Linked DNA regions of Homo sapiens: region 2 is linked to region 1. The links come from fine-mapping of genetic effects on gene expression. A gene starts in region 1. The other region holds a variant in brackets. All regions are shown on one strand. Distances are between the middles of the regions. Region 1 holds the start of LINC01589 (long intergenic non-protein coding RNA 1589). Region 2 overlaps FBLN1 (fibulin 1).

Evidence for each region. PIP is the estimated chance that this variant, and not a neighbour inherited with it, causes the effect.
Region 2: its variant is the best candidate, but not a certain one, in a credible set for the expression of LINC01589 in lung (GTEx, PIP 0.50).

The regions. Positions count from the first base shown.
Region 1 is chr22:45,603,606-45,607,993 of GRCh38, reverse strand. LINC01589 (long intergenic non-protein coding RNA 1589) reads left to right here and starts at 2,347. Exons shown (of 2, transcript NR_131244.1): 1 at 2,347-2,593; 2 at 3,236-3,562.
Region 2 is chr22:45,596,979-45,601,366 of GRCh38, reverse strand. It overlaps FBLN1 (fibulin 1), which reads right to left. Exons shown (of 17, transcript NM_006486.3): 17 at 232-1,060. The coding sequence ends at 921. Among named protein-coding and RNA genes, the nearest start is that of LINC01589, 6.5 kb to the left of the region's middle. RefSeq lists an enhancer at 1-45. The variant A/G (reference allele first, on the strand shown) is at 2,280.

The DNA.
Region 1 (4,388 bases):
TTCAATGGCCATTTCTGCTGCGACATTTCAGTAGCTTCTGGGTCCCACCCTCCAGGCAACCTCTTCTTCCTCAGCCTGGTTCTGTGACCTTGTGCCCCCTGCCACTCCTCCATTCTTAGCTCCACATGGGGCACCCACATCTTCCCCCTCCCAGAGCCCCCTCCCCAACTTCCCACCCCTGTCTGTCCCGCTTTTTTTTTTTTTTTTTTTTTGAGACAGAGTCTCATTCTGTTGCCCAGGCTGGAGTGCAATGGCGCGATCTTGGCTCACTGCAAACTCCACCTCTCAGGTTCAAGCGATTCTCCTGCCTCAGCCTCCTGAGTAGCTGGGATCACAGGCACCCACCATCTCGCCTGGCTAATTTTTGTATTTTTTTTAGTAGAGATGGGGTTTCACCATGTTGGCCAGGTTGGTCTCCAACTCCTGACCTCAGGTGATCCGCCCGCCTCGGTTTCCCAAAGTGCTGGGATTACAGGCGTGAGCCACCACGCCCGGCCAGCTCTCTGCAGACACCATCTGGGCGTCCTACACTTCAGTTCAATTCTGACGCTGGCCACCCAGAGTTAGCACAGGCCCGAGAGGATATGGGCTCCGTCCTGCAAGACCGTCCCTACTTCAGATGTCAGTTGCAAAGATTGGGCGCTCAGGTTACCCACACTTCCGTCTGACTTGGCTACACATCAGGGGTCCCCAGAACGCCCTCCTCGGGTTTGGTAATTGGCTAAAATGGCTCACAGAACTCAGGGAAACACTTTGGTTACATGTATAGGTTTCTAAGACCTTATACAAACTGGGCCCATTAGTCTTTGCTCCCTGATACTATCTGATACCATCTGGTCTCATTCCTTCCTGAATGGAATAATTCCTTCCTCATTCATTATCACAAGGACAATAATGTCCTTGTAAAGGACATTATTGATGATACAGATGAACAGGAAGACGAAGAGGCACACAGGGCGAGCTCTGGTGGGGCCCGGGCACAGGAGCTTCTGTCCCCGTGGAGTTGGGGGGCGCCACCCTCCCAGCATGCGGATGTGTCCACCAGCCCAGAAGCTCTCTGGATCCTGTAGTTCAGGGATTTTTACGGAGGCTTCATTACTTACGCGTGATGGATTATTAGCTCAATCTCCAGCCCCTCTCCCTTTCCTGGAGGGTGGGGGTGGAGCCAAAAGCTCCAGGCTCCTCGTCGAATCTGGGTCTTTCTGGTGCTCAGCCCCCAACCCCACCCAGGAGCCACTGAGAGTCACCTCATTAAACCAAAGACAAGGGATTAGGAGCTTTGTGTCAGGAACCCGGAAAGAGACCAAATAGAAGTGAATGTTTCTTATTATGTCACACAGCCACACCACGAGGTTGGTGCAGGAGCCCTTGAAGGAAGCCCTTGGAGGATCTGAGACCAAGAGGGCCTGATCAGATCGGAGTTTTGGAAATGTAACCTGGCAGCCTAGGGGAGGACTGGACAGAGTGGGGAGGACAGAGGGGAACTGATTCACCAGAGGGAGGGCGTGAAGTGAGTGAATGAATGAGTGAACCAATGAATGAACAAGATGGGAAGGAAGGAGTGAGACCAGATGGTATCAGATAGTATCAGGGAGCAAAGACTAACGGGCCCAGTTTGTATGAGGTCTTAGAAACCAGATCAAGGAGGTGGGATCAACGGTGCTTTCCTCTAAAGAAGCACATTTCCGGCCGGGCGCGGTGGCTCACGCCTGTAGACCCAGCACTTTGGGAGGCCGAGGCGGGTGGATCACCTGAGGTCAGGAGTTCGAGACCAGCCTGGCCAACACGGTGAAAACCCATCTCTACTAAAAATACAAAAATTAGCTGGGCATGGTGGGGGGTGCCTGTAATCCACACTACACAGGAGGCTGAGGCAGAGAGAATGGTTTGAACCCCCGGGAGGCAGAGACTGCAGTGAGCTGAGATCACGCCACTGCACTCCAGCCTGGGCGACAGAGCGAGACCCTGTCTCAAAAAAAAAAAAAAAAAAAAGAAGCAGCAGCAGCAGCAAATTTCCAGGAAGAAGCAGGCTATGGAGATCAGGGCAGGCAAAGGACAGAATTAGGTTAGTGCATCAACTGGGTCCAACCAGGAAGACACATGTGTTTATCTCCTGCAGCACCAAAAACCACCCAGAAGACAGCTCAGTGGACCCTAGCAGTGGATTCTACATGTCTGCAGAAAATGAGCAGAAAACAAGCCAGAGTTACAGCTATCTGCAGAGAGACTACATCCAGGAGGTCTGAAGACTGAAAGTAATCACTGCAGTCTGACTTCTACCACTGACACCCTTCCCATACATAATTTAAATGTGTAATTATAATACCATTGCTTAGTTAACGGACACCAATTCGTGCAGGAGCTGCCACAAACAGTAATAAACCAGCTGTGTTAGAAATGGATCACTTATCAGTGCGTGCCCAAGCCTCCTAATGCCTCATGATGTTTAATAATTAAATTGTGACACCTTGAACCCGCAGCTGACACCATGAATCACAGTGGAATTCTCCAAATGGAATGCAGCCACACCTCAGCTTCTGTGCTGCGTGCTGCCACTGAGGACATTCGATACCATTGAAGCCGTCAGATAGAGGTGGGTTATTTCCCTGTGCCCTGCACCTCCCTTCTGGCAAGTCCCTGGGAAGCAGTGGCCACAGATGAGCTGCTGCTCTCTTAAAGACTGAGATCAGGCCGGGCGCGGTGGCTCATGCCTGTAATCCCAGCACTTTGGGAGGCTGAGGCAGGCAGATCACCTGAGGTTGGGAGTTCGAGACCAGCCTGGCCAACATGACGAAACCCTGTCTCTACTAAAAAATACAAAAAATATTAGCTGGGTGTGGTGGTACGCGCTTGTAATCCCAGCTACTTGGGAGGCTGAGGCACAAGAGTTTCTTGAACCCAGGAGGCAGAGGTTATATGGAGTCTCGCTCTGTCACCCAGGCTGGAGTGCAGTGGCTCAATCTCGGCTCACTGCAACCTCATTTCAGGAGATGAGACCGGCATCCTTGTGGGAGAAGATGGCCCTGAGCTGGGCATGGCAGAAGGGCTGCGGAGTGTGTGTGTGTGTGTGTGTGGTGTGTGTGTGTGTGCACACATGCGCACATGTGTGTGTGAGAGAATGTGTGTGTGTTGGAGATGATTACCGAAGCCTTCCTGGCACATAGTAGGTCTTTTTTCCCACAAAGAGTAATGTGATTATTGGTAGTAATGGTGACTGTCACCGTGCTTCTCACAGGCCGTATTTCAAAAGGTCTACGGTGGCTCCGTTTCTTCTCTGAGACTTCAAAAGTCCTTCAAGAGTGAGTTCCCGTCTCATTCTATGTCCAGGATGAAGACGGATGGCCTCTTGGCACCCATCTCTTTGGCATGAACGATGTGGGGAAACGTGAATGGAAATGGGGAACTGTTGCTGGCACCCAGAAGTCATCCGGTCCGGATGAAGCCAAGTCACAAGGAAGTGCCTCCAATTATTCTTCATAAATTCCTCTGAGGTTTCACTTCTTGTCCACACAAGACTTTAATAAAATGTGGCATCTAACTGAATAAAGACTATCCTTTCGGGTGTGTGTGTCATGACAGTACTATTTATGGAGGACCTCCTGTGTAGCAGTTCTTGCACTGTTTTACGTAATCATCCCCTTTCATCCTAACAATCACTCCTGTGAAGTATGTGTCCTTATTTTCATTTCGTTGTAGAGAAAACCAAGGCTCTGAGACATTAAGCAATGTGCCCAAGGACACACAGCTAGTAAGTGGCTGGATTTGAGCGCAAGCCTACAAGAAACTGTAAGTTTCTTATTTGTATTTATTAATTCATCATATTGTCATTTCTTCAAAATGCAACTGAATCTCATAAAATGTCAGTGGCAGAATCTAGGTGGAAGGTGCCCTGGTATTCACTGTAAAATTCCTTCAACTCGGCTGTATATTTGAAAATTTTCATGTTACAATATTAGGAAAAAAACCCTTGATTTCCAGGTGTTTTTTCACCTGGACAAACTTGAGAACTTTGGAAAAGCTGGCTTACCTCCTCGAATTCTAGTTGGCTGGCTTGGCTGGGTTGGCTGGGTGGGCCCTGGCACCCTCCACTCAATGCCCACCTGCATGTTAAAACGGGTCCTGCTAGGACCCTGGGCAGCCCAGGCACTTCTGACACATGCCACAGACTTCCTCTGTACAGTAGAATAGATGTCCCTTAGGAATAAAAAAAAAAAACAGGCAGCTTTCTGGTCGAATACCACTCTATGACACCTTCTGGGACCTTCCCTCCAAGTTTCTTCTACCAGATCAACAAGAAGGATTCAACTTGGTGTCTCTGTGTGTTTTGCTGTCTCATGCTGCTTATAAACTGCTTTGCCTTTAGCAATGTCCCTCAGTTATCTTGTTCT
Region 2 (4,388 bases), 6.6 kb after region 1:
CACACTTCTCAGAGGGTGGGCATGGCATTGAAAACGACGTGTGTAGGAAGCTTTTCCAATACACAAGCTGGGCCCCGCCCCAGAACCTTGAGGGGCAGGAGGAGCACTGAGACAACCTTGGGTGGGGTGAGGCAGGGGGACGGCGGGGGGAGATTTCCAGTCCCTTAGCTGGCGGAAGACTCCTGAGCTGGCAGAGAGCCCTCTTCTTGAAAGACTCTCATGCACAGGCCATCAGGAGGATCACAAAGTTGTTTATTTTCCCACCTATAAGAAAAGATGGATGATGCAGAGTGCCGAGAAATCCCAGCCATTCCCCTGGTGAACATACTGGAGGCCCACACGAGCCTAACAGGCTGTGTCTTTACCAAGGGATTTTCCTCTATTTCAACAGAACTGCAATTTCCCTTCCAAGTGCTCCCCGAGGCATTCTGTCATGCTGCTTCTGGGGATAATTTATCATCCACGTCTGTGCTATTCTACAGCAGCCATGTCCTTAGAACATAGAAAATCTGATTGGCCAAAAAAAAAAAAAAAGTGCCAAAATGTCAAATTTCATACAATCAGGGCAAGAACTGGTCTTCTTTTGGCATTTGGACTGGCTGCCCCCTAAAAAATGTCTTTCTTTCCTTGGCCCTTAGCAAGGCCCAGCCAGAGGCAGAGAAAGGGGGTGACACTTAGCCTTCGCATTAAAAAATGAGCAAGGTTTTCAACCAAACAGTTGAGCAACTGGGCTCATTTTTTAAACACCGAAAATACATCAGATGGACTTATTCATCTGGCTCAGCTTAATACATGTTGGCCTAATGCTACAAATACCTAACATTAAAAAAGTCTGAGGGTATAAACAAGTACAGACCACAGTCACTGGCAGCAATGATTTGGCCTGGAGGTGCACCTGCGGCTGTGCGGCAGACCAGCCCTCAGAACCAGTACTCAGAGACGAAGATGTGGACGTTGACAACATTTCGGTGGGAGACCACGCCCCCGACCACATAGTTCATCTCCAGCTTCAGGACGGCATGAAATGGGCCCACGATGGGCCGCACCTGGCGCACGACACCTGCGGAGAGAGCAGAAGGTGTGCTGGAAGTTAGAAGGGACTGCAGCAACGTAGAGATCTGGGAAATGGTTTCCCTTGAGGAGTTTCAGAGCTAGAAGGAGGCATAGACCTCATGGAGTCCCATCCTACGCCAGATGCTCGAGTCCCCTGAATAACATCTCCTTCCAAGTGGTCAGCTCAGGCTCTGCTCCTGCCTCCAGGGACTGGTGAAAGTGAACTCACTACTTGCTGGGACAGCCTTTCCATCATGCACTGCCCAACCTGGAGGAAAGTTGTGGGTGTGGGCTTTGAAACTGGATGGCTCTGGGATCAATGCCAGCTTCTGAGCCCAGGTTTTCTGCTCTACCACCATTTACCTGACAGGTGTTTTTTGTTTGTCTTTTGTTTTTGCGACGGAGTTTCACTCTTGTTGCCCAGGCTGGAGTGCAATGGCGTGATCTCGGCTCATTGCAACGTCCACCTCCCGGGTTCAAGCCATTCTCCTGCCTCAGCCTCCCGAGTAGCTGGGATTACAGGCATGTGCCACCATGCCTGGCTCATTTTATATTTTTAGTAGAGACGGGGTTTCTCCATGTTGATCAGGCTAGTCTCAAACTCCTGACCTCAGGTGATCCACCCGCTTTGGCCTCCCAAAGTGCTGGGATTACAGGCATGAGCGACCGTGACTGGCCTACCTGAAAGGTTTTAAGGGAGCCTAGAAGAGGGCCTGGCATGCAGTGGGTACCTGATAGACATCTTTCTCCCTCCTTCCAACCCCCTGTGCCCAGTTCTGACCCCTGAGAAGAAATGAAGCAGGCGTATCCTCTCCCCCAGAACATCTGAGGACTGCAATGGGCCCTGGATCCTCCTGCAAGCAGAGCACCCCCAGTTCTCCATGGGGCATGCCTCCGGACCCCTTGCTGTGCATGCCTCTGTGGAGGCTGACACCTGAGCTCACTGTTCAGTGTTTGTGATAACAGGGAAGCAAGAGGTGGCTGGAGTGACAGAGGATCAGAGCAGCAGTGGCGTCCCCAGGGCAGTCAAAAGGAGGATGGGTGGTGCAGGGAGACTGGTGTCAGTTCTGGGGAAACAGCTGGGGGTTGCAGGGAGCTCTGCCTGTACCAGGGTAGGGATCAGGCAAAGACCGTGGCCAGAGGACAGGGCACAGACAAAGCTCAGCCACGGCAGGGTAGAAGAGGAGCAACCCCAGGCATTCTGCAGATTCCAGGGGATCCGGGTT[A/G]GCGGGTAAGGGAGTGGGTGCCACAAGTCCTCCCCAGCCTGGGCCCGCCATCTCCATGGCCCCCGACCAGGCCCAGCTGGCACTGCCTTCCCTCTGCAGGGCACCCAAAGCCTCACAGAGACTCTCCCATACTCTGTACGCAGTGAGAGTATGGGACAGTCCTCACTGCACTGCGGAGAGGCTGAGGCCCTTTTGAGGCCTAGGTTCCCCAGCAACAAACGGTGCCATGCCCCTGTGCTCCTGCACTGCACGATTCAGATGCCCAGCATCTGCCAAGGCATCAGCTCCAGCTGTGCAGAGCGGCCTTCCCACCAGAGCAGAGCACTCAGCAGATCCCCTTCGCATGCACACATGTGCTAAACAGGTGCTGGGACAGTTCCCAGGGTTCCAGACATCATGAACAGGATGCTGGTTTCAAAGCTGGTGGGAGATCTAGGATGAAAGGTATGCACCACGCTCTGATGGAGGGTGTGCATTGTCCAGCGGGGGCGAGAATGGAGGTGGGGAGGGCTGGGGAGTCAGGACAGGTTTCTTGGAAGAGGCACCCCTCCTGCAGAGGAAGCTGCACAAGCCAAGGCTACAGGCTGCTCCCCAGTGTCTGCGGCCAAACAGGCACAGACCTATGGGTGCTGACATTTATGAATGAACCGCCAAGGTCCCTTCTCCGTTCCACATGTTCTGACAGTAGGATTTGTCTAAGGTGGTGTTGAGGGTGGGGATGTGGGGTAACTATCTAACAGGTGGCTCTCTGGTCGTACCATCGGCCAATTTCTATGGCAAATTTCCGGTACCACGTGGCAACACTGAAAGTGGACTTGTGGAGAGATGTGTACAAGCAGCTCTCCAGAGCTGGTGTGAGCAGTGTGAACGGTGTGAGCTGGCACTGAGACACCTGCTTGGATGCTCTGTGAAGAGCGAATATGGAGCCTGCAGCTTCACAACCACAAGTTGAGAAATAGCTACTGACTGTTTGCCACAAACGGCTGATTCCAGGCTGGATTCTGTGAACAGTTCCTCTGCAGGCTTAGGAAACGTGCACGGTGACAGCCTATCTCCACCTCTTGGTGCCCAGGACACAGCAAAGGCTCAGGGGAGAACTGAGGGGTCAGGAAGGCCTTCGGTACGAGTGGCTGGTTCCTGGTCAGGAACATCAAGTTCACGCTCAGAAAGAGAATCTGGGCACAACGTTCCCCCCTTTCGCTCTCTGGGCTTATGTTTCAAAAGTGAAAGGCCCAGCAGCTGGGGTGGAATTTCAGGCTGTTCCCTAAGCAAACATGGGCTTTAGCTCCGATGGAGAGATAAGCACAGGCTTCTGCAGGCTGTCAGCACCCTTGCTCTGCCTGCTACCTGGTGATGACATTGAAGCTTTGTCCTGCTTGAAAGCCCATGAACGTCTTCAGCTCCCGGCAAAAGACGTGCGCCTGTCACCACCCTGGGCTCGCCAGCAGAACCTGATGACGGGGTCACTCCTGCCTGCCCCTCCCTGGGCTGGGTCTGCCCACCAGGGTCAGTGTGGGCTTACAGGGCTGAACCTAACGTACCCCCGTGGGCCCCCTGTATGTCATATTTTTCTCTCCCCAGGCCCGAGGCCAACAATGGTGCCCCCGCTAGCCACAGTGACCTGCCAACTTTACTGGTACTAGGCGCAGAGACACTTCTTACCACCCTTCCTGGCATTCAGAGGTTTGGGGCTTGAAGGAGAAGGAGAGGCTGGGTGAGCCTGTGAATCACTGTAGGGAGGAATGGCAGGCACCTCCACAAGCAACAGTCAGATATGTCTTTGTTTCAGCTGGGTGCAGTGGCTCACGCTTGTAATCCCAGCACTTTGGGAGGCTTAGGCGGGCAGATCACAAGCCCATGAGTTCGAGACCAGCGTGGGCAACGTGGCAAAACCCTGTCTCTACAAAAAATACAAAAATTAGCCAGGCATGGTGGTGTGTGCTTATAGTCCCAGCTACTCAGGAGGCTGAGGTGGCAGAATTGTTTGAGCCCGGGAAGGTCAAGGTTGCAATGAGCCAAGATTGTGCCACTGCATTCTAGCCTGGGTGACAGAGCAAGATCCTGTCCCAAAAAAAAAGAGATCTATTTCTGTTATTATTATATTTCTGT